Regions from separate parts of the Homo sapiens genome. Here region 2 is linked to region 1. Evidence: fine-mapped expression QTL. A gene starts in region 1. The other region holds a variant in brackets. All regions are shown on one strand. Distances are between the middles of the regions. Region 1 holds the start of EXOSC1 (exosome component 1). Region 2 overlaps LOC644215 (a long non-coding RNA gene).

What was found. PIP is the estimated chance that this variant, and not a neighbour inherited with it, causes the effect.
Region 2: its variant is the best candidate, but not a certain one, in a credible set for the expression of EXOSC1 in stomach (GTEx, PIP 0.78).

Annotation. Positions count from the first base shown.
Region 1 is chr10:97,437,915-97,450,201 of GRCh38, reverse strand. EXOSC1 (exosome component 1) reads left to right here and starts at 4,196. Exons shown (of 8, transcript NM_016046.5): 1 at 4,196-4,247; 2 at 4,355-4,470; 3 at 6,891-6,965; 4 at 8,943-9,031; 5 at 11,499-11,532. The coding sequence starts at 4,217. ZDHHC16 (zDHHC palmitoyltransferase 16) reads right to left here and starts at 4,027. Exons shown (of 12, transcript NM_198046.3): 1 at 3,849-4,027. RefSeq lists a silencer at 3,766-3,975 and enhancers at 3,907-4,486, 4,487-5,067.
Region 2 is chr10:97,407,537-97,419,823 of GRCh38, reverse strand. LOC644215 (a long non-coding RNA gene) reads left to right here. Exons shown (of 2, transcript NR_157582.1): 2 at 329-1,077. Among named protein-coding and RNA genes, the nearest start is that of RRP12, 12 kb to the right of the region's middle. RefSeq lists an enhancer at 1,177-1,226. The variant T/C (reference allele first, on the strand shown) is at 6,830.

The DNA.
Region 1 (12,287 bases):
ACCTCCTAGGAAGCTAAAAGAATTAAGGGGAGGCCGGGCACGGTGGCTCACGCCTGTAATCCCAGCACTTTGGGAGGCCGAGGCGGGTGGATCATGAGGTCAGGAGATCGAGACCATCCTGGCTAACAAGGTGAAACCCCGTCTCTACTAAAAATACAAAAAATTAGCCGGGCGCGGTGGCGGGCGCCTGTAGTCCCAGCTACTCGGGAGGCTGAGGCAGGAGAATGGCGTGAACCCGGGAAGCGGAGCTTGCAGTGAGCCGAGATTGCGCCACTGCAGTCCGCAGTCCGGCCTGGGCGACAGAGCGAGACTCCGTCTCAAAAAAAAAAAAAAAAAAAAAGAATTAAGGGGAGTGTAGAAAAGAGAAAAAAAGGCCGGGCGCAGTGGCTCACGCCTGTACTCCCAACACTTTGGGAAGCCGAGGCAGGCGGATCACTTGAGGTCAGGAGTTTGAGACCAGCCTGGCCAACGTGGTGAAACACTGTCTCTACTGGAAATGCAAAAAAATAGCTGGGCATGGTGGCGCGTGCCTGTAATCCCTGCTACTTGGGAGCCTGAGGCAGGAGAATCGCTGAAACCCGGGAGGTGGAGGTTGCAGTGAGCCAAGATCGCGCCAGTGCACTCCAGCCTGGGAGACAGAGTGAGACTCCACCTCAAAAAAAATTAAAAGCTCACGCTCAAACTTCCACCCCTATTGTTTGGAAGCATGATTTGGCTTGTAGCATGAATTTTTAAAATAGTAGACACCCACAATCAAATGTAAGAGTGGGACAAAACAGATTACCCCACAACAAATCTAGGTGGCTTTTGGACTGTCCACACTGCTGTTCATTCCCTTTCTATAGGTCATGGAGAGTTTCCTATTTGCCAAAATACTTTTTGTAGCAATGGCATGCAAATCCAATGCACTCCTTGTTTGTAATAAACTCGAATTATATACTACCTCACACCTCTTCTAGTCTTAAAAAAAAAAAAAACTTCTATTCTCCACTTTTCAGATCATTCTTAAACATGTCCTAAATTCTTCAGCGCTGCAGGAAATGTCTGCCTCAAAGACCAGATTTACCCAATTCTTTAGGGTTCAATTCTGTCCCTAAGCAGTTCCGTAACCTCAGACAAATCATTCAACTCTACTGGGACTCAATCTCCTTGTGTTCACATTCAGTGAGGGAGTAGGATTAAATGCTAAGGTCCCTTCCAGCTCTAACCTTTTATGATTCTGTAACTATACAGATACAGTCAACCCCCATATCTGCGGAGGGATTGGTTCCAGTCCTCCCTTCAGATACCAAAATCCATGGATGCTCAAATCTGATATAAAATGGCATAGTGTTTGCATATAACCTATACGTATCTTCCCATATACTTTAAATCATTTCTAGATTACTCATAATACCTAATACAAAGTAAATGCTACACATAAACACTTTTTTTGTTTGTTTTTGAGATGAAGTCTCGCTCTGTTGCCCAGGCTGTAGTGCAGTGGCAAGATCTCGGCTCACTGCAACCTCCGCCTTCTGGGTTCAAGCAATTCTCCCTGCCTCAGCCTCCCAAGTAGCTGGGATTACAGGCACCTGCCACCTCGCCCAGCAAATGTTTGTATTTTTAGTAGAGACGGGGTTTCGCAATGTTGGCCAGGCTGGTCTTGAACTCCTGACCTCAGGTGATCTGTCTGCCTTGGCCTCCCAAAGTGCTGGGATTACAGGTGTGAGCGAACCACCATGCCCAGCTGCCCCCAAATATTTCCAATCCATGGTTGGATTGGATCAGCAATGTGAAACCCACAGGTATGAAGAGCAAACTTCTTTGGTAAGTGTAAATGAAATGTTTATAAAGCACTTAGCACAATACCCGGCTCATGGAAGTACTCAATAAATATTTGTTGAATGAATGACCTGGAGGGATGCAGAAGTGGAAAGCCTGGCCAGATGTCTATCTGTCCTACAAATACCAGCAAGGACACTCCTGCCAATGTGGTAACACTAAATAAGTGTCTGCTGTTATCATTCTTCCTGATTCATAAAGAGAGAAATACAAACTGTTATTAAAATCATGGCACTTAGGAGCTAGAAGTCGTTTTTGAAAACAAGCCCAACCAGAAATCAGCCCAACCGTGTAAACAGAAAGCTCCTAGACGCACAGATACAGATTTGGGTGAACAAAGTCTGAGGCTAGGGCCTCTCTCCATTAGCTAATGGGGTATGGGATGCCAGGAAAATTACATATGTAGTAAGTGGGCCGCAACTGAACACACAGACTTTTCTTTTTTTTTTTTTTTGAGATGGAGTTTCACTCTTGTTGCCCAGGCTGGAGTGCAATGGCACAATCTGGGCTCACCACAACCTCCGCCTCCTGGGTTCAAGCAATTCTCCTGCCTCAGCCTCCTGAGTGGCTGGGATTCCAGGCATGTGCCACCACGCCTGGCTAATTTTGTATTTTTTTAGTAGAGACCGGGTTTCTCCATGTTGGTCAGGCTGGTCTCAAACTCCCGACCTCAGGTGATGTGCTTGCCTCAGCCTCCCAAAGTGCTGGGATTGCAGGCGTGAGCCACCGCACCTGGCCCAGACTTTTCATCTCAAGAAATAGAAGTAAAGCAAAATTCAAAAAGATGTGTGTAGGGGAGAAGGGGCTAATCTCAGTGAACGGGAGGAAACAGAGCAAAGCGCAGCTTTACTACCACCCCAAGCACAAGCCCGAGTACTCTGATCCTTCAGTAATAGTCACAGGCCATACTGGTCATCTGCCACCAGACTGGAGGAGATTGCTGGCCACAACACTCCCCTCTTCCCATGGCTTTAAGTCACATCTGTTTCCCAATGGGAAAGTCGACTGAGGGGACAGGGAAGGACAGACGGCAAAGCCATCAGAAGTCAGGTGAACTGAGATCAAAGTCGTGGCGAATGTCATCTGGACAAAGACGCTGCTCTCAGGATGTTTGCAATCTCAAGTAGGAGATACCCAACATCAATAAAGAGTAGCATTTTATTCATGTGCAGACCTCCCTTCTGGGCTAACACGCTGAGAAGAAAAAGAGTAACAACTTTATTTTGGGGCTGCTTATCTTTTGATGACGGGCCCACACAACCAGAGTTCGGCTTTTTCAACCAGAGAAAGCTTACTGAAGTGGGGATGAGGGGCCGCGAAGAGGATCGGACCGCAGGACTGGAAGCTGCAGTTTAAAAAACCGGGAAAAGGCCGGAGGCAGTGGCTCATGCCTGTACTCCCTGCACTTTGGAAGGCCGAGGCGGGCGGATCAAGAGATCAAGACCATCCTGGCTAACATGGTGAAACCCCGTCACTACTAAAACTACAAAAATTAGCTGGGCGTGGTGGCGCGCGCCTGTAAGTCCCAGCTGCGCGGGAGGCTGAGGCAGGAGAATCGCTTGATGCCGGGAGGCGGAGGTTGCAGTGAACAGAGATCGCTCCACTGCACTCCAGCCTGGCGACAGAGCGAGACTCCTCAAAAACAAAACAAAAAAACCGGGAAAAGGTTTTATTTCTCAATGACAGCCGCGAGGTGAAACTGCGATGGACTGGAAGTCAAAAACCGTGGGTTCCAGTTTGGGCTCTATCTTAACTATCTTGATCATTTTGGACAAGTCAAACCCTGTCTCTGAATCTGAGGTTCCATATCTGTGAAACAGACGAGTTGGGTCGCTTGACCTCCTTCCCTCCTGCTCTGAGCGTAACGATTGCTCGGAAGGTGCGCTCGGGCTGAGGAGGGCACGGCCCCGCAGGGCGGGGCGAGGAGAGAGCAGGAACCCGCACTCAAGACAAGGCCCCAGGGCAGTGCCCTACCCAGAAAAAGGGACTAGGATGGGGAGCAAGGGCCGAGGCTTCGCCCTTACCTGCCGCCTGCCGACTCCCCAGTCAGCCAAACCGAGCCCCGTAGCCTCTGCCGCCGCTCACTGCCACCCCCTCCGACTCGGCGCCCCGGCCGGGCCCGGCTCAATCCAAACCACCATGGCCCGCCGCCCGCAGCGCCAGGCAGCGGACCCGGACCCGCCGCCAGCCCATCCTCAACCACACGCGCAGGCGCCAGCGTGGACCTCTGAAGTTCCGCCCCCGGATTTGTCCCGGGGTAACCTGGGAAATGGAGTTTACTCGCAAGGATAAAGAGTACCAATTGACACGTGTCTTACTGCGGAACTGTGCCTGGGTTTGGCCAATGAGAAATCGACTTCGTTTTCATCCTGGTTTTGGGACAGCGGCAATCATGGCGCCACCTGTGAGATACTGCATCCCCGGTAAGTGAGCGCTTCCCGTACAGAGTCCTGGATAGGGGCTGAAGCAAGAAGGCTAAACGGCCTACAGCTTCTGGGGGCCCGTGACCGATGCAGCATTTTTTCTGCAGGCGAACGTCTGTGTAACTTGGAGGAGGGCAGCCCGGGCAGCGGCACCTACACCCGCCACGGCTACATCTTTTCGTCGCTTGCCGGCTGTCTGATGAAGAGCAGCGAGAATGGCGCGGTAAAGGAAGCGGCATGCCATCTCCCCTCTGTTTTTCCCTTAGGCTGCCCTTGAGTTCCAGTCCTTAGGCATGGGCACTGCGGACGCGTCTTTAGTGCCTCAGTGGTACAATGTTGGTCTCTTAGTTTCTTCTAGCCGTATCGCCGCTGTGGTGCACTTAGCCACCACACACTAGTTGTGTTGATCTCGCTTGGTTGTGCTGCTGACCCTCGGGGAGGGAAGTTGGGACAAAAGCAGATGCGAACTCAGTATCCCATCCCAGCCCAGCTCAGCCCAGCAGTGAGTTGCATACTGTATGAATGTTGCTTACCTTTCCGACTTTATCTAGCGCCACTATCTCCACCTCACTGACGCAATCTAGTCATACTGTCTTTTCTGTGTTTAAAAGTTATAATCACAGTCTCTGCTTGCCCTTTAAAAATTTTTTATAACATACTAGCTTCTTTCAGTGTCGGTAATGCGCCAAGCTTTCTCCTGCTACAGAGCCTTTGTAACATGCCATCTATCTGGAACGCTTCTATCTTCCTAGGCCTATTTAATTCCTACCTCCTTTAGATAGCTTCTCTACTATCACCTCAGAGAAGTCCTTCTGGACCCACTAATTGAGGAAAGGAGTTTTGTGGGGTGTTTTGTTTTTGTTTGTTTTGTTAAAGACTCACAAAAAACTCTGTTCCTTTTCTTCCAAGCACTATGTCAGCATATGATGAGACACTCAGGTATATGTTTCCTACTAGACTTCTCCCCTGCTTAAATCTAAGTCCGTGAAAGCAGGCCCTACCACCATACCATCCGTATATAGCACAAGGCAGCTCCTCAATAAATGTTGAATGTGTGAGTAATACCTACCTTTCTAGTTTCAGAGATAGATCCAGGATTAGCTCAGGATCATATAAGCAATATTTGAAGGAGCACAATAGAAAGAGGATTCAGAATTAGAACAGTTACGTTCTGGCTAACTTGACTTTGATTCTGCTTTGAGTAAGTAACTTAAGCTGTCTGATTCAAGGGGCTTTCTATTCAGTCATTGTTGGGAATGTTCTTAACAGTCCTGAGTTTGTTCATTTCATAGATATCACTTGAGTATTTTCATGTGTCAGGCACAGCGCTGACTTGGTTTCTGCTATCAAAGGACACAGACACAAATTGTAAACAAATAAATGCTCAAATGAGCATATGGTTACATATGTGGTGGTGCTTTGAAAGAATATTACAGGGCACCTTGAGAACATGTAACAGGCAAACCCATCCTAGTCAGCAGAAGTGACATTTAAGCTGAATCATCTAAAGAGTAGGTAAGAGTCAGGTGGGTGGAGAGAGTGCAGCTCTGGCAGAAAGAATAGGTTGAAGAGAGATCTGAAAGTGGGAAGAATTTAGTAAGTTGGGGAAACTGAAAGAAGGCCAGGAGAGCTGAAGCATTGTGAGCAACGGAGAGATTGATAAAAGATGAGGCTCAAAATATCTGTCTTATACCAACAGCCAATACCATGCTCAAAGAGAAAACTCTGCAAGTATTCACTTAAAATAGAAGAAAACAAGCATAGCCGCTATTATGTAACATTTTTGTGGAAATTTCAGCCTGTGCAATAAAATAAGAAACAGAAGGAAGCAGTATAACTTTGGAGGAAAGAGTAAATTGTCGGCAGGGCGCAGTGGCTCACACCTGTAATCCCAGCACTTTGGGAAGCCAAGGCAGGTGGATCACCTGAGGTCAGGAGTTCGAGACCAGCCTGGCCAACATGGTGAAACCCCATCTCTACTAAAAATACAAAAAATTACCCGAGCATGGTGACAGGCTTCTGTAATCCCAGCTACTCGGGAGGCTGAGGCAGGAGAATCACTTGAACCCAGGAGGTGGAGGTTGCAGTGAACCAAGATGGCACCCTTGCACTCCATCCTAGGCAACAAGAGTGAAACTCCATTTCAAAAAAAAACAAAAAAAGTAAAATTGTCAATGATTATAGGCAATATAGTTGTATACCAAGAAATTCTGAGAGAATCACCAAAAAACTTATTAGAAGTTTAGAGATTTACTACAAAAAAAAGTAGCTGGGCATGGTGGCGGGTGCCTGTAGTCCCAGCTACTCGGGAGGCTGAGGCAGGAGAATGGCGTGAACCCGGGAAGTGGACCTTGCAGTGAGCCGAGATCGTGCCACTGCACTCCAGTCTAGGCGACAGAGCAAGACTCCGTCTCCAACAACAAAAAAAGAAGTTTAGAGATGTATGTCTTCTAGCAGCATTCTGTAGCCTCCTGGTCCTCCTATTTCCTAAAATTTCTAAGGCCTTCTGCTCTGGGCTATAAATGAATCCATACTCCAACTCTCACCTTTATACCAAGACATTCCTATATTACTCTCAAGCCACAAATGCCTTGACCCAAGGGTTAGTCAGGACATTTCAGTTTTTTGTTGTTCCCTCTGTAGCTTCCAGTGGTGTCTGTAGTGAGAGAAACAGAGTCCCAGTTACTGCCAGATGTGGGAGCTATTGTAACCTGTAAGGTAAGTTGGTCCTGACCTCCATGCTTAGAATGCCCATTCAATACTGAAATCATGACCATACCAGAACTGCAGTGTCCAGTATGATAGCCACAAGCTACATAAATTTATTTCTGGCAGGGCACAGTGGCTCACACTGGTAATTCTAGCACTTTAAGAGGCCGAGGCAGGAGGATTGCTTCAGCCCAGAGTTCAAGACCAGCCTGGGAAACATAGTGAAACCTCATCTCTACAAAAAGAATCAAAAATTGCCGGGCATGGTGGCTCATGCTTGTAATCCCAGCACTTTGGGAGGCCGAGGTGGGCAGATCACCTGTGGTCAGGAGTTCAAGACCAGCCTGGCCAATCATGGCCAACATGGTGAAACCCTGTCTCTACCAAAAATACAAAAATTAGCTTAGCGTGGTGGTGCATGCCTGTAATCCCAGCTACTCGGGAGGCTGAGGCAGGAGAAGTGCTTGAACCCAGGAGGTGGAGGTTGCAGTGAGCCTGCGTCACAGCAGTCCAGCCTGGGCAACAGAGTGAGACTCCGTCTCAAAAAAAAAGAAGAAGAAGAATAAAAAATTAGCCAGGCATGGTAGCACATGCTTGTGGTCCCAACTACTTGGGAGGCTGAAGCAGGAAGATCGCTTGGGCCCAGGGGGTTGAGGCTGCAGTGAGCCATGATCACTCCAGCTTGGGTAACAGGGCAAGACTCTGTCTCTCAAGAAAAAAATAAAATTGATTTCCTTAGTCACATTAGCCACATTTCAAGTACTCAATAGCCACTTGTGGCTAGTGGTTGCTATACTGGTCAGCACATGACTTTTCTGTCATCACAGAAAGTTTTACTGGACTGTGCAGGCTTACAGATTTCTAGGATAATAATCAAGGCAGCCAAGTTCAGGCATGCATAGTTCCTTCACTGAGCTGATTCCCTGAATACATAGTTCTACCTGTGTCTGGGAAACAGGGATGCCAGAGGATGATTAGGAGGCCTATTTTTGAACATCTGAAGCTGAGTTCTTTTTCTGCAGAGAAGCAAAAGACTTTATTTTTTGCCATTCCTGTTTTTTTTTTTTTGAGACAGGGCCTTGCTCTGTCACCCAGGCTGGAGTGCAGTGGCACGATCTCGGCTCACTGCAGCCTCTGGCCTCTTGGGTTCAAGCAATTCTACTGCCTCTGCCTCCCGAGTAGCTGGGATTATAGGCATGTGCTGCCACGCCTGGCTAATTTTTGTATTTTTAGTACAGGTGGGGTTTTACCATGTTGGCCAGGCTGGTCCTGAACTCCTGACCTCAAGTGATGCGCCCACCTCAGCCTCCCAAAGTGCTGGGATTACAGGCATGAGCCACTGTGTCCAGCCTCTTTTTTTTTTTTTTTTTTAATTGTTAGCCATCTATACTTTAAAAAGTCTATACCTCTCTGAAGGGCAAGTTGTGAAAAGATTTAAAAAAAAAAAAAAAAACCCAGCCGGATGCAGTGGCTTACACCTGTAATCCCAGCACTTTGGGAGGCTGAAGCAGGCGAATCACCTGAGATCAGGAGTTCGAGACCAGCCTGACCAACATGGAGAAACCCTGTCTCTACTAGAAATACAAAATTAGCTGGGCATGGTGGTGCATGCCTGTAATCCCAGCTATTCAGGAGGCTAAGGCAGGAGAATTATTTGAACCCAGGAGGCGGAGGTTGCGGTGAGCCAAGATCGCGCCATTGCACTCCAGCCTGGGCAACAAGAGTGAAACTCCGTCTCAAAAAAAAAAAAAAAAAAAAACCCATACCACCTTTGTTTCCCATAGTAACTCTACCAGGTGGCCAGAGTGGCTCTTATTCCTCTTTACATGTGTCACTTACGCAGAGAGAAGTAGGAGTTAATTTGTCTTAAATTCTCTACTTAGTAGGGTTGCTTGCACTGAAGCCCTAGTAATCCCCAGTTTATTGCTGCCTCCTTGAGCTGACAACTGCTTATACTCTGATGCTGATCTTTTCTCTATTCCGCAGGTCTCTAGCATCAATTCACGCTTTGCCAAAGTACACATCCTGTATGTGGGGTCCATGCCTCTTAAGAACTCTTTTCGAGGAACTATCCGGTAAGAAGTATCCTTTTCACATATACCTTAGCAACTGGAATAAGATTAGGATAGACTAGGACACCAGAATTTTGAGCAACAGTTACAATTCCTATTTTTCTTTTGCCCGTTTTTCTTTCTTCTTTGTGCTTTGATTCTCCCCTAGTAGTATCCAAAAAATACATGGATGATCTAGGACAAAAGGAAAATATTAACGAGAGGGTTTAAAAGTAAAGCAAAGGCTGGGCGCGGTGGCTCACGCCTGTTATCCTAGCACTTTGAGAAGCTGAGGCGGGTGGATCTCTTGAGATCAGGAGTTTGAGACCAGCCTAGCCAACATGGTGAAACCCCATCTCTGTAAAAAATACAAAAATTAGCCAGGCACAGTGGCTCACACCTGTAATCCTATCACTTTGGGAGGCTGAGGTGGGTGGATCACAAAGTCAGGGGTTTGAGACCAGCCTGGCCAGTGTGGTGAAACCCTGTCTCTACTAAAAATACAAAAACTAGCCGGACATGTTGGCGTGTGCCTGTAATCCCAGCTGCTCAGGAGGCTGAAGCCAAAGAATCGCTTGAACCCAGGAGGCAGAGGTTGCAGTGAGCCAAGATTGCGCCATTGCACTCCAGCCTGGGGGACAGAGCGAGACTCTGTCTTTAAAAAAAAAAAAAAAAAAAATTAGCTGGGCATGGTGGTGCGTGCCTGTACTCCCAGCTACTTGTGGAGCTGAAGCAGGAAGATCACTTGAGCCTAGGAGGCAGAGGTTGCAGTGAGCTGAGATTGCACCACTGCACTCTAGCCTGGGCAACAGAGTGAGACCCTGTCTCAAAAAACAAATAAATAAATAAAAGGTAAAGCAAAAAGAATTGAGTGAAGCTGAAGTTTAGCAGTGTCAGGATGACTCAAACCAAAGTAGAAGGCAGGCTGGGCGTGGTGGCTCATGCCTGTAATCCCAGCACTTTGGGAGGCCGAGGCGGGCGGATCACCTGAGGTCGGGAGTTCGAGACCAGCCTGACCAACATGGAGAAACACCGTCTCTACTAAAAATACAAAATTAGCCAGGCGTGGTGGCACATGCCTATAATCCCAGCTACTAGGGAGGCTGAGGCAGGAGAATCACTTGAACCTGGGAGGCGGAGCTTGCGGTGAGCCAAGATCGTGCCATTGTACTCCAGCCTGGGCAACAAGAGTGAAACTCCGTCTCAAAAAAAAAAAAAAAAAAAGTAGAAGGCATTTTAGGAAGCACTTTAAAATTTAATATAGATTGAACTCAGAGGTTATAAAACATTGAAAAGATTTGTGGGTGAGATGGTGATTTCGTGTGGCTTCCTTGAGAAAGGACAAACATTTCTTGCCAGGCAGATAATCTAACTTTTGAGGCCCTTTCCAGCCTCAGGATTTGATGTGGTTCTGTAGTGCAGCAGTCCCCAACCTTTTTGGCACCAGGGACCAGTTTCTTGGAAGACAGTTTTTCCACAGACCATGGAGGGGGTGGTTGCAGAATGATTCAAGTGCATTACATTTATGGTGCACTTTATTTCTGTTATTATTACACTGTAATATATAATGAAATAATTATACAGCTCACCATAATATAGAATCAGCGGGAGCCCTGAGTTTGTTTCCCTGCAATTCGATGGTCCCATCTGGGGGTGATGGGAGACAGTGACAGATCATCAGGCATTAGATTCTCATAAGGAGTGGGCAGCCTAGCTCCCTCATATGTGCAGTTCACAATAGGGTTCATACTTCTATGAGAATCTAATGCCCACTTCGATCTGACAGGAGGCGGAGCTCAGGCAGTAATGTATGCGATTGGGAAGCAGCTGTAAATACAGATGAAGCTTGCCTGCCACTCACTTCCTTCTATGCAGCCCGGTTCCTCACAGGCCACCAGAAGTTGGGGGCCCTTGCTATAGTGCTTCTGTTCAAGCCCTGAGGCAACGAAATTCCTTATCCTTTCTTGCCAAATCCGATCTGCCTTTATCTAATCAGAGGTATTGATACTGCCTCTCCATGTGGTCTGAGGATGCTTCTCCACCCTGCTCCTCTGGGTAGCAGCTGTGTCCCATTTACAACTTGTTCTGTCTGTTCTTGTAGCTCTTTATTTACTAGGAATCTACAGAATAATTCTTTCTCACAGGCTGGGCAAGGTGACTCATGCCTGTAATCCCAGCACTTTGGGAAGCTGAGGCGGGTGGATCACCTGAGGTCAGGAGTTCAAGACCAGCCTGGCCAACATGGTGAAACCCCATCTCTACTAAAAATACAAAAAACTAGCTGGGCATGGCGGACGTGCCTGTAATTCCAGCTGCTTGAGAGGCTGAGGCACGAGAATTGCTTGAACCCAGGAGGCGGAGGTTGCAGTGAGCAAAATTGCGCCACTGTACTCCAGCCTGGGTGACAGAGGGAGACTCTGTCTCAAAAAAAAAAAAAAAAAAAATTCTTTCTCACAGGTAATTAATCTTTCTGTTAATTCTTTTTTTATAGCAAGGAAGATGTCCGAGCAACTGAAAAAGACAAGGTTGTTGGTTGGTTCTTTTTTTTTAATGGCTTTACGTATCTCAATCCCTTAAAAGTATTATCTCAGGCCAGGCATGGTCACACACACCCGTAATCCCAGTACTTTGGGAGGCTGAGGCGGGAGGATCACTTGAGTCCAGGACTTCAAGACCAGCCCTGGCAACATAGCGAGACCCTGTCTCTACAAAAATTTTAAAAATTCAAAAATTGGCCAGGCATGGTAGCTCATGCCTGTAGTCCCAGCTGCTTGAGAGGATGTGGCTGGAGGATTGCTTGAGCCCAGGAGTTTGAGGTTAAGTGGTGGCACGCACCTGTAGTCCTAGCTACTTGGGAGGCTGAGGCAGGAGGATCCCTTGGTCCAGCAGTCCAAGGCTGCAGTGAGCTACCATTGCATCACTGCACTCCAGCCTGGGTGACACAGTGGGATCCCACCTCTTAAAAAAAAAGAAAAAAGGGCCGGGTGCAGTGGATCACACCTGTAATCCCAGCTCTTTGGGAGGCCAAGGTGGGCGGATCACAAGGTCAGGAGTTCAAGACCAGCCTGACCAACATGGTGAAACCCCGTCTCTACTAAAAATATAAAAACTAGCCTGTGTCGTGCCATGCACCTATAATCCCAGCTACTCAGGAGGCTGAGGCAGGAGAATCGCTTGAACCCGGGAGGCAGAGGTTGCAGTGAGCCGAGATCGCACCACTGCACTCCAGTGTGGGCGACAGAGCGAGACTCCATCTCAAAAAAAAAAAATTTTCATTTGT
Region 2 (12,287 bases), 30 kb after region 1:
AATTAGCCGGGTGTGGTGGTGCACACCTGTAGTCCCAGCCACTAGGGAGGCTGAGGTGGGAGGATTGCTTGAGCCCCGCTAAGTTATGATTGCACTGCTGCACTCCAGTTTGGGTGACAGAGTGAGACCCTGTCTCAAAAAAAAAAGAAAAGAAAAAGAAAAAACACTGAGATAAAGAAGCTACCAGAAAAAACAAAACAAAACAAAACAAAAAACAATAAAGAAAAAGAAGAAGCCAACCAAGAGTCACAGCCCTTTTACCCTCCACTGCCCCTTAGGCTAATAAAGGCCTCTCCAGCCTTCCTTTCCCATTTATTTTTTTCCACAGAAGAACTCCACTGAACATTCATTGAAGGCCCAGATTTAGAGTGAGCGGGGCAAACCAAGTTTTGTGCTGGGTGGAAGGAGGGGCGGCTGCTGTTCAGCCCACAGGATTCCTGTGAGGACACCACATGTTCATAGTTGTTAAACCATCTTGCAAACTCATTGCCTGATGTTCAGATCTCCCGGCTCAGCTGGTGTCTGTGGAGTACAGGATTTATGTTTCAGAGAGGGCATGAGCCCAGATGATGCCTCAAGACTCAGGTTCTAGGAGAGAAAGCAGTGCTTCAGGGACTTTGACTGCCCCCGCCCGAAATGCAGTCGCCATCTGCAGGTAAACAGAGCTGGAGCTGGTGCTGCCGGAAAAGAAAGAGGAGGGCTCTCCGGCAGCCTGCGGCTTCCTCAAGGACTTCCCAGGCCAGGCGCTGTGGCTCACGCCTGTAATCCCAGCACTTTGGGAGGCCGAGGCGGGCAGATCATGAGGTCAGGAGATCGAGACCATCCTGGCTAACACAGTGAAACCCCATCTCTACTAAAAATACAAAAATTAGCCAGGCGTAGTGGCGGGCGCCTGTAGTCCCAGCTACTCAGGAGGCTGAGGCAGGAGAATGGCGTGAACCCAGGAGGCGGAGCTTGCAGTGAGCCGAGATCGCGCCACTGCACTCCAGCCTGGGTGACAGAGCGAGACTCCGTCTCAAAAAAAAAAAAAAAAAAGAACTTCCCTGACAGCACCCAGGTTTCCCTGATCCGCCCGCATTGTCAGACTTCTAAGGCCAGGCTTTAGTCCAAGCCTCTTTCTTTTTTAAATTTATGGCACTCTCAAAACCACCTGGTGTGCGTCAAGCCCTCTGCCACTAGACCCTGTGTGAAAACTGTAATGGTAAAATGCTCAAACCAGGGCAATAAGCACATTTTGACCCTTCTGCTTTCATTCACATAAAACTGATTTCTCAGTCTATATTAATCTTGGATCACATTTTTTTTTTTGAGACAAGGTCTCCCTGGGTTGCACAAGCCAGTTTTAAACTCCTGACCTCAAGCGATCCTCCTGCCTTGGCCTTCCAAAGCACTGTGTGAGCCACTGAGCCTGACCTCAAAATTGTACATTCAAAACAAGCTGACGTCCTGGGCACAGGAGGCACGTGCCTGTAGTCCCAGCTACTCAGGAGGCTAAAGCAGGAGGATGGCTTGAGGCCAGGAGTTTGAGGCTGCAATATGCTATGATCACACGTGTGAATAGCCACTGTACTCCAGCCTGGGCAATAAAGTGAGACCCTGTCTCTAAAAAAATTTAAAAAAAAAAGCTGGCAGAAACTTAGTTATTTGGGATTGATTTGCATCAAGTTTAGTGAATTGTTGGGAGATTAGCAGTGTGTTAGTCCAGTGTGGGGAAAAGAAAGAGAGATCAGATTGTTGCTGTGTCTGTGTAGAAAGAAGTAGACATAGGAGACTCCATTTTGTTTTGTACTAAGAAAAATTCTTCTGCCTTGAGATGCTGTTAATCTGTAACCTTACCCCCAACCCCGTGCTCTCTGAAACATGTGCTGTGTCAACTCAGGGTTAAATGGATTAAGGGCTGTGCAAGATGTGCTTTGTTAAACAGATGCTTGAAGGCAGCATGCTCGTTAAGAGTCACCACCACTCCCTAATCTCAAGTACCCAGGGACAGGCCAGGCACGGTGGCTCACGCCTGTAATCCCAGCACTTTGGGAGGCCAAGGCAGGCAGATCACGAGGTCAGGAGATCAAGACCATCCTGGCAAACACGGTGAAACCCCGTCTCTACTAAAAATACAAAAAATTAGCCGGGCGAGGTGGCGCACGCCTGTAGTCCCAGCTACTCGGGAGGCTGAGGCAGGAGAATGGCGTGAACCTGGGAGGCGGAGCTTGCAGTGAGCAGAGATCACGTCATTGCACTCCAGCCTGGGCGACAGAGCAAAACTCCCTCTCAAAAAAAAAAAAAAAAAATGAATCAAGTACCCAGGGACACAAACACTGCGGAAGGCTGCAGGGACCTCTGCCTAGGAAAGCCAGGTATTGTCCAAGGTTTCTCCCCATGTGATAGTCTGAAATATGGCCTCGTGGGAAGGGAAAGACCTGACCGTCCCCCAGCCCGACACCCGTAAAGGGTCTGTGCTGAGGAGGATTAGTGTAAGAAGAAGGAACGCCTCTTTGCAGTTGAGACAAGAGGAAGGCATCTGTCTCCTTCCCGTCCCTGGGCAATGGAATGTCTCGGTATAAAACCTGATTGTATGTTCCATCTACTTAGGGGGAAACCGCCTTAGGGCTGGAGATGGGACATGCGGGCAGCAATACTGCTCTTTAAGGCATTGAGATGTTTATGTGTATGCATATCTAAACCACAGCACTTAATTCTTTACCTTGTCTATGATGCAGAGACCTTTGTTCAGGTGTTTGTCTGCTGACCTCTCCACAATTATCCTATGACCCTGCCACGTCCCCCTCTCCGAGAAACACCCAAGAATGATCAATAAATACTAAGGGAACTCAGAGGCCGGCGGGATCCTCCATATGCTGAACGCTGGTCCCCTGGGCCCCCTTATTTCTTTCTCTATACTTTGTCTCTGTGTCTCTTTCTTTTCCAAGTCCACCTAACGAGAAACACCCACAGGTGTGAAGAGGCAACCCACCCCTTCAGTCCAGGATCTCCTAGAAGCAGTTGCCAAGACAGGATGTGCAGGAAATATATTAGAAGTGTCTGTGACAGGAAATGGGGCTGGGAGCACAGGTGTGATGCTGCGTAAGGGAAGGAGGAAGGAAGGTTTGGTGGGTGGCAGCGTCGTCTTAGATTGCAAATGCAATTCTGGGGAAAATTCAGCAAGCCTGTTGGGGGCTACTCCAGCCGAAGTTACCCTTCTTCAGAGGGGTCCTCAGGCTCCCAGGACCAGCCTGCCTTCACATCCTTGATACAGGGATGCTAAGTCATGACTGGATGCAGCCCATGGGCAGCACAGCATCTGAATGCTAGGAGGGGCCCTCAGCCAATCAGCTCTCTTCCCTGGGTATGGTGGCTTATGCCTGTAATCTTAGCACTTTGGGAGGCTGAGGCAGGTGGATCACTTGAGTCCAGGAGTTCAAGACCAGTCTGGGCAACACAGTGAGACCCTGTTTCTAAAAAAAAAAAAAAAAGAAAAGAAAAAGATAGGCCAGGCGCGGTAGCTCACGCCTGTAATCCCAGCACTTTGGGAGGCCGAGGTGAGCGGATCACAAGGTCAGGAGATCGAGTCCATCCTGGCTAACATGGTGAAACCCTTTCTCTACTAAAAATACAAAAATTAGCCAGGTGTGGTGGCGGGCGCCTGTAGTCCCAGCTACTTGGGAGGCTGAGGCAGGAGAATGGCGTGAACCTGGGAGGCGGAGCTTGCAGTGAGCCGAGATCACGCCACTGCACTCCAGCCTGGGCGAGAGTGCGAGACTCCATCTCAAAAAAGAAAAAAAAAGAAAAAGAAAAGAAAACATTATGCTGAGCCAAAGAAGCCAGTTACAAAAGACTGCATGGTTTATGATTTTACTTATATGAAATGTCCAGAATAGGCAAATCTATAGAGACAGAAAGTAGATTAGTGATTGCCAGGGGCTGGCAGGGTTGGGGGTGATAAATACAGGGTGTGGGGTTTCTTTTTGAGGTGCCAAAAAATGTTTTAAAGTTGACTGTGGTGATGTTGCACACATCTGTGAAGATACCAAAAACCACTGAATTGTACACTTTATTTTTTATTTTATTTTATTGAGACAGAGTCTCACTCTGTCACCCAGGCTGGAGTACGGTGTCACGATCTCAGCTCACTGCAACCTCCACCTCCTGGGTTCAAGTGATTCTCCTGCCTCAGCCTCCCGAGTAGCTGGGATTACAAATTTGTGCCACCATGCCTAGCTAATTTTTGTATTTTTAGTAGAGACAGGGTTTCACCATGTTGGCCAGGCTGGTCTTGAACTCCTGACCTTAGTTGATCCACCCACCTCGGCCTCTCAAAGTACTGGGATTATAGGCATGAGCCACCGCACCTGACCAAAAGTTTTAAACAATTATTTTAAAAAACAAACCCACCCGAGCCTACCTACCAGAAGCCTTTGCTCAATGGGAGTGAAGTGGGCGGGTAGCTCTGGTGGATCTAAGTGGCCACTGAGCTGCAGAAAAGCATCCGTCTGCTTTTACCCTAGTCCTGACAGAGCTCAGAACCTCCCATGGCAGCTCCAGGGATGGTTCTTAGGGTTGTGGTTGGGCAAACACATGTGGTTCCCACTAAGCCCAAGGAGAGACATAAAGGAGAGACCAAGGAGAGGCTTCTGTGGAGAAGGCAGGGGCAAAAGCTGGCTGTAAGGTCTGGCCAGCTGCACCACACTGCCCACCAGCACCTCATCTTCTCCTTTACGGAAGAAGTGACTGGGAGTCCGGGATCCTAGGTCTCATTTCTGATTTTTTTTTTTTTTTTTTGAGATAAGGTCTCACTGTGTCTTGTGGGTGGGAGTGCAGTGGTGTGATCATGACTCACCGCAGCCTGAGCTCAAACTCTTGAGCTCAATCCTCCCATCTCAGTCTCCCAAGTAGCTGAGACTACAAACATGTGCCATCACACCCCGCTAATTTTTTTTTTTTTAGACAGTCTTGCTCTGTAACACCCAGGCTAGAGTGCAGTGGCACGATCTCGGCTCACTGCAACCTCTGCCTCCCGGGTTGAAAGGATTCTCCTTTCTCAGCCTCCCGAGTAGTTGGGATTATAGGCACCCGCCATCATGCTCAGCTAATTTTTTGTATTTTTAGTAGAGACAGGGTTTCACCATGTTGGTCAGGCTGCTCTCGAACTCCTGACCTCAGATGATCCACCAGCCTCGGCCTCCCAAAGTGCTTGGATTACAGGCGTGAGCCACCGCGCCCGGGCTTTTTTATTTTTTTAAGAAATGGGGTCTCACTATGTTGGCCAGGCTGGTCTGAAGCTCCTAGGTTCAGGGGATCCTCCTGCTTTGACCTCCCAAAGTGCTGGGATCACAGGTGTGAGCCACTGCACCCAGCCCTAGGTCCCATTTCTGATTAGGTATGTTCCTTACAATGCAACTAACTTCCCTGATTCCCTGTGTTGGAAACACCTCAGCCACAGGATCTTGGAGAGGTGACAAACTGGACCTTTGAATACCTGGGCCAGGCAAGTATTCTGACCCTAGCCAGCCTGTGAACTTCCCTCCCCAGAGCCAACATGGTCCTTTATAAAAGAAAACAACCTCTGAGAGTGAATGTTTTGAGCTACAGTCACTTGAGGGGGAAAAAAAAGCTCATACCCACAGGAAAGACTGTTCTGCTGCCATGGCAACAAGTCACCACCATAACCAGTTTTAAGCCACTTAAAGACAATTCCTCTCCCTTCAGCTGAACAATTTTCCTCAGTGACCAGACATCTGACACCAGCCAATCGGTAACAGCCACACTGGTTGGCCAACCAATCCCTAAACACTACCTCCCTTGATATGTGCCCACCATTGATCTTCAACCTCCTAGCACCTTATATAAGATCAGTGCCCTGCTCCACTCACAGGGATTGCACCTAACAGGCCCAGCTCCACCTCCCTTAAGTAAGTACTGTAGTAAATGCAGCTTTTTGGTTCAGATGTTGAGAGATGGTCTTTTCTTTAGACACACTCGTATTCTGGAATCTTGCCTTCCTGGGAGCGATTGATTCTCACTTCCTCTGTGGTGTCATTGCCTCCATGCCTCTGAGCCTCGTATACCTGTACGCATCATATGCCTCTATGGTGTCACTGGGGAATGAGAAAAAGGCCAACTCCAGGCGTGGTGGCTCACGCCTGTAATCCCAGCACTTTAAGAGGCCGAGGTGGGCAGATCACCTGAGGTCAGGAGTTGGAGACCAGCCTGCCCAACATAGTGAAACCCTGTCTCTACTAAAATACTAAAATTAGCTGGGCGTGGGGGCGGGCACCTATAATCCCAGCTACTTGGGAGGCTGAGGCAGGAGAATTGCTTGAGCCTGGGAGGCAGAGGCTGCAGTGAGTTGAAACTGTGCTACTGCACTCCAGCCTGGGCTACAGAGCTAGACTCCGCCTAAAAAAAAATAAATAAATAAAATAAAATAAAATAAAATAAAAGGCCAACTCTTCTTCTCTACAAGGCACCAATGAAGACTGGATTTCAGACCCCTCATCTGGGAAACTAAGCAGTCCACATACTTCACAACTGTACACGGCAACCGTGCTCACCCCTCATAACCGCTAGCCTTCACGTGTCATTCTACCTCCCCGATACCTTCTCCAATCTGTCCTTCCCTCTTTGCCCCCGCTGCCACATTCTTAGTTTCAACCCTTATGGTTTCTTTCCTGTACTGATGCAGCAGTTTCCGACACATCAGTGACTCAGGTCTTGCCTGCATCTAGAGCAAACACATCGTGTTCTTACTTGCCCCTGTGCCTTTGTAGCTGCTGTGGCCTTGCTTGGCCTGAACAGCCACCCTCAGCTTCCTGGTCAACTCTAGCTCATGCTG[T/C]AGCACTCAGCTCCAACGTCACCTCACCTGAAAATTGGCCCTGACTCGCCTCTCAGACATGACTATAGTCTGCCAGGCTCTGGACTCCCATAGCTCCTGACCATACCTGGATGATGGCACTGATTGCCACAGGGATTGTTTACTGCCACCCCAACCAGCCTGTGAACTCTAGATGTGAGAGCTAGGCTGCTTTCATTGCTTGGTAACCAAATGGTTATAAAGAACAGGAATTGGGAGAGGAGTAAATTACAATTATAACTCCCCACTTAATGCTATTGGGAATCTTTCCCTAGCTTTGGTTTCCCCATTTTAAAATGTGGATAATAGGCCAGGTGCAGTGGCCCGTGACTGTAATCCCAGAACTTTGGGAGGCGAAGGCAGGAGGATCATGTGAGGCCAGGAGTTAGACACCAGACTGGATAACATAGTGAGACCCTGTCTCTAATTAAAAAAAGAAAAAAAGAAAAAATAATAATAGGCCAGGCGCGGTGGCTCACCCCTGTAATCCTAGCACTTTGGGAGACCGAGGCAGGCAGATTGCCTGAGGTCAGGAGTTTGAGACCAGTCTGGCCAACGTGGTGAAACCCGATCTCTACTAAAAATACAAAAAAATTAGCCAGATGTGGCGGCATGTGCCTGTGATCCCAGCTACTCAGGAGGCTGAGGCAGGGGAATTGCTTGAACCAGGGAGGTGGAGGTTGCAATGAGCCAAGATCATGCCACTGCACTCCAGCCTGGACGACAGAGCAAGACTCAGTCCCAAAAATAAATAAAAAATAATAATAATAAAATAAAATGTGCATAATAATAGCACCTACCCTATACAGTGGTTGCGAGGACTCAGTAGGATCACACATGTGAAGTGCCAGGTCTATAGAGGCTAATAAATGATAGTTCTTATTACCACAGAGAGCCCCTGACACAAAGGATACATCCATTAAATGCTATTTTCCTCTCCTCTTCTCTGCCACAATGCCCAATCTACTTGGCAGGATGGTATAGTGGTTGGATAAATGATGGACCAACATTTCTGTTATTTTCCTTGATTGCAACCTTCAAAAATTATTGTCCAGGCAAGATAGCTCACGCCTATAATCCCAACACTTTGGGAGGCTGAGGCAGGAGGATTGCTTGAGCCCAGAATATTGAGACCAGTCTGGGCAACATAAGGAGACCTTGTCTCTGCAAAAAATTTAAAAATTAGCTGGGCATGGTGGCATATGCCTGTAGTTCCAGCTACTTGGGAGGCTAAAGTGGGAGGATTGCTTGAGCTCAGGAGGTCAAGGCTGCAGTGAACCGTGATCGCATTCCAGCTTGCATGACTACTGCATTCCAGTCTGGTTGACAGACATAAAAGATATACCTTGGACAGCCCCTCTTAGACACCCTAAGAGCGTTATCTGAACCTCTCTTGTGCCCCTTGCTGAGCTCTGCATAAGTCATGTGTTCACTTGGCAAGCAGATGTATTGAGCCACACACTGTGGTAGGCTCTGATGGCGCCAGAGTAGACCAGACATGGTTCCTGTAATCAGGGGTTTCACAGTCAGATGGTCAGATGAGGGAGGCAGAGAAGCAAAATGCAATTCTATTAATTGAGCATCAGTGAACAATAAAGTTACCAGGGGCTTTAGAGAGCTCTGGGTACAACATCTTCAATGTACAAATAAGAAAACCGAAGAGTTTTGTGCTTGTCTTTTCACCATTCCCCCATAGGTTACTTTCTTTTTTTTTTTTTTTTTTTTTTTGAGACAGAGTATCTTGCTGTTGCCCAGGCTGGAGTGCAGTGGCGCGATCTTGGCTCACTGCAACCTCCACCTCCCAGGTTCAAGCAATTCTCATGCCTCAGCCTCCCAAGTAGCTGGGATTACAGGCGTGTGCCACCATGCCTGGCTAATTATCCCCTGTAGGCTTCTTTTTTTTTTTTCTTTTTTTGACGGAGTCTCGCTCTGTTGCCCAGGCTGGAGTGCAGTGGTGCCATCTCGGCACACTGCAAGCTCCGCCTCCCAGGTTCACTCCATTCTCCTGCCTCAGCCTCCCGACTAGCTGGGACTACAGGTGCCCGCCACCACGCCAGGCTAATTTTTTGTATTTTTAGTAGAGACAGAGTTTCACCATGTTAGTCAGGATGGTCTTGATCTCCTGACCTTGTGATCCACCCGCCTCAGCCTCCCAAAGTGCTGGGATTACAGGTGTGAGCCACCGCGCCCAGCCCTATCCCCTGTAGGTTTCTTAAGGCAGAGCAAGAGTCTTTTTCTTTTATTATTTATTTATTTTTTTTTTGAGACGGAGTTTTGCTCTGTTGCCCAGGCCGAAGTTCAGTGGCACAATCTCAGCTCATTACCATCTCCGCCTCCCAGGTTCAAATGATTCTCCTGCCTCAGCCTCCCGTGTAGCTGGGATTACAGGTGTGCGCCACCATGCCCAGCTAATTTTTGTATTTTTAGTAGATACAGGGTTTCACCATGTTGGCCAGGCTGGTCTTGAACTCCTGACCTCAGGTGATCCACCCGCCTCAGCCTCCCAAAGTGCTGGGATTACAGGCATGAGTCACCGCACCCGGCCAAGAGTCTTTTTAGATGGAGTTTCACTCTTGTTGCCCAGGCTGGAGTGCAATGGCGTGATCTCGACTCACTGCAACCTCAGCCTCCCGGGTTCAAGTGATTCTCCTGCCTCAGCCTCCCAAGTAGCTGGGACTACAGGCATATGCCACTATGCCTAGCTTATTTTGTATTTTTAGTGGAGATGGGGTTTCACCATGTTGGTCAGGCTGGTCAGGTGCCCGGCCCATAAGCTTCTTTAAATACTTTCATATGTGTGCTTAGCATAGTACCTTGCACATAATAGGTGATCAAGAAATAACTTTTGAGTATGTAACTGGGTTAAATTAATTAGAACCAGTCCTCCTAACACCCAGCTGAGATCCAGAGGCTGCTAGTTGCCTCCCCAATATCAATTCTTCCTTTCTCTCAATAGGCACAGGGGGTGAGCTGCAACTTACCCAACTAAAAGACTAAATTTCCCAGCCCCTTCTGCAGCTAAATTTGGCCAAATTACTAAATTCTAGTCAATCAAGTGGAACTGACTTAGCTGGAAGGTGCACCTTTTGGCTCTTCCTCCTTTCCTTCCTACACTAGGCCTCCACCTGGATCATGAGTGTGACAGCTGGAGCTCCTGCAGCCCATCTGTGGAGCACAAGGTGACAGTGAAAATGGAAGTCATACGTTATGGAGGTTGAAGCAGAAAAAGAGAGGGATCCCAGGATCCTGAAGATTCTGTGGAACTGCCATAGCAGCCTGGACTGCCCATTACCTCCTGATTTCCATTTCTTGAATGTGAGAGAATTAACCCTTGCCTGTTTAAGCCACTGTAGCAGTCTCTTATAGCAACTGAACACAATTCCTTACTGATATAGAGGCCCTGAGAAGAATGAAGAATTTGAAGTGGTAAATGGGGAACGGTTTAATTTTGGGGTAAGTGGAGAGAGAACAGTCCTCCCCATTGAGCAGAGTCCCCTGCCATGCCCAGATTCCAGTCTTCCTCAGCCTAGGAGGGGACATGCTTCCTCTCCAGCACACCAGGCTCTTTCCCCAAGAGTTATTCTAGAAAGCAAGCTCTTTTTGGCTTTTGGATTTTTTTTTTTTTTTTTTTTTTTTTTTTGAGACAAGGTCTCACTCTGTCACCCAGGCTGGAGTGCAGTGGCACAATCATGGCTCACTGCGGACTTGACCTCCTGCACCTCAGCCTCCCGAGTAGCTGCGACTGTAGGCGTACATCACCATGCCTGGCTATTTTTGTGTTTTTTGTAGAGTTGGGGTTTCTCCATGATGCACAGGCTGGTCTTGAACTTCTGGGCTCAAGCGATCCTCCCACTTTGGCCTCCCAAAGTGTTGGGATTACAGGCGTGAGCCACCACACCCAGCATCAAATGGAATTGTAATGCCCCAGGAGCTGAGGGACACTTGACCCCTGCAGCAGTGCTGTGCCAGGCACTGGGCTAAGGATTTCACATGCATTATCTCATTTTAGCCTCATAACAGCAGCCCCATTTTCAGATGAGAAGACTGTGGCTCACAGAGCTCAGCCGCCTGCCCCGGCTCACGCAGCTGGGATGTGGCTCCAAACCCAGGCTTCCTAAGTCCAAAGCCTGGGCTTCAACACAGCTCCAGCAGTTAGGAAAACCGTCCGGAGCAGCTGCAACAACAACGGGTTGGTCAAAATGCCCTGACCTTGAGCTCTAGGTTAAACACCCAGACCTCTGCTTCCTCTTTGTTTGAGGCAAGAGGCTAAGCCTCAATTTCCCTTTCTTCCTGCCCAGTGTCATAACAGATTACAACTTGCTGACCTAAAACTGGTTTTACTGCTCCGCATGGCCACAGAACTTTGGGTGTGGCAGCTCTGTTACCTCCACAGGAGCCTTGCAGACAGTTTTAAGAGCAGTGCAGGCCGGCACGATGGCTCACGCCTATAATCTCAGCACTTTGGGAGGCCAAGGCAGGCAGATCACCTGAGGTCGGGAGTTCGAGACCAGCCTGACTAACATGGAGAAACTCTGTCTCTACTAAAAATACAAAATTGGCCGGGCTTGGTGGCACATGCCTGTAATCCCAACTACTCAGGAAGCCTGAGGCAGGAGAATCGCTTGAACCCGGGAGGTGGAGGTTGCAGTGAGCCGAGATTGCACCATCGTACTCCAGCCTGGGCAACAAGAGCGAAACTCCGTCTCAAAACAGAAAAAAACAAAAAAAACAAGGGCAGTGCTATGGGGGGAGGGGGTTCATCCTGGGCTAAGCGTTGGATCTCCTGGCTTCTGCTCACTGTGTGACCTTGGGGGTGTCACTGAACCCCTTAGAACTATGTTTCCCCATCTGTGAAATGAGGACACCTGCTCTGTCCTCCTCACTTAGAGAATTAATGAAAAAGTATTTTGGAACTGAGGAAGAGTTTTTTTAGATGATAATAATAGCTCACATTTATTGCATGCTCACTGTGTACCAGGCAGCGTGCTCAGCACTTAAAATTCATTATCTTATTTAGTTCCCATAAATCAGACAGGTAGGCATTCTTATCATCTCCATTTTACAGATGTGGAAAACTGAGGCTCAGGGAAGAGTAAGGTGAGTTGTTCAAGGTCACAGAGCAAGTGGTGGTACTTGAATTCCAACCCAGAGAGTCTAACTGCAGGACCTATCCTACAGATGTGGTGGTCCTTATTAACCATATGTGGAGGGGCTGATCATGGATACAGCTAGAGCCTCTGGGTGGGAGTTACTGCTGGAATTCAGGGGTGGAGAGGTGAGCCCTGGGGTACCGGGTGGAAGAGATTGTGCTCAGGCCATTTGGATGCCTATCGTCCTCTCTTCTGGTAGAGCACGCCTCCTGGAGGAGGCTCTGAGCAGATGCCTCAGGATGGACGGCCAGCAGGTGACCTAGGGCCCCTCAATGCCCATACCAGGCTGA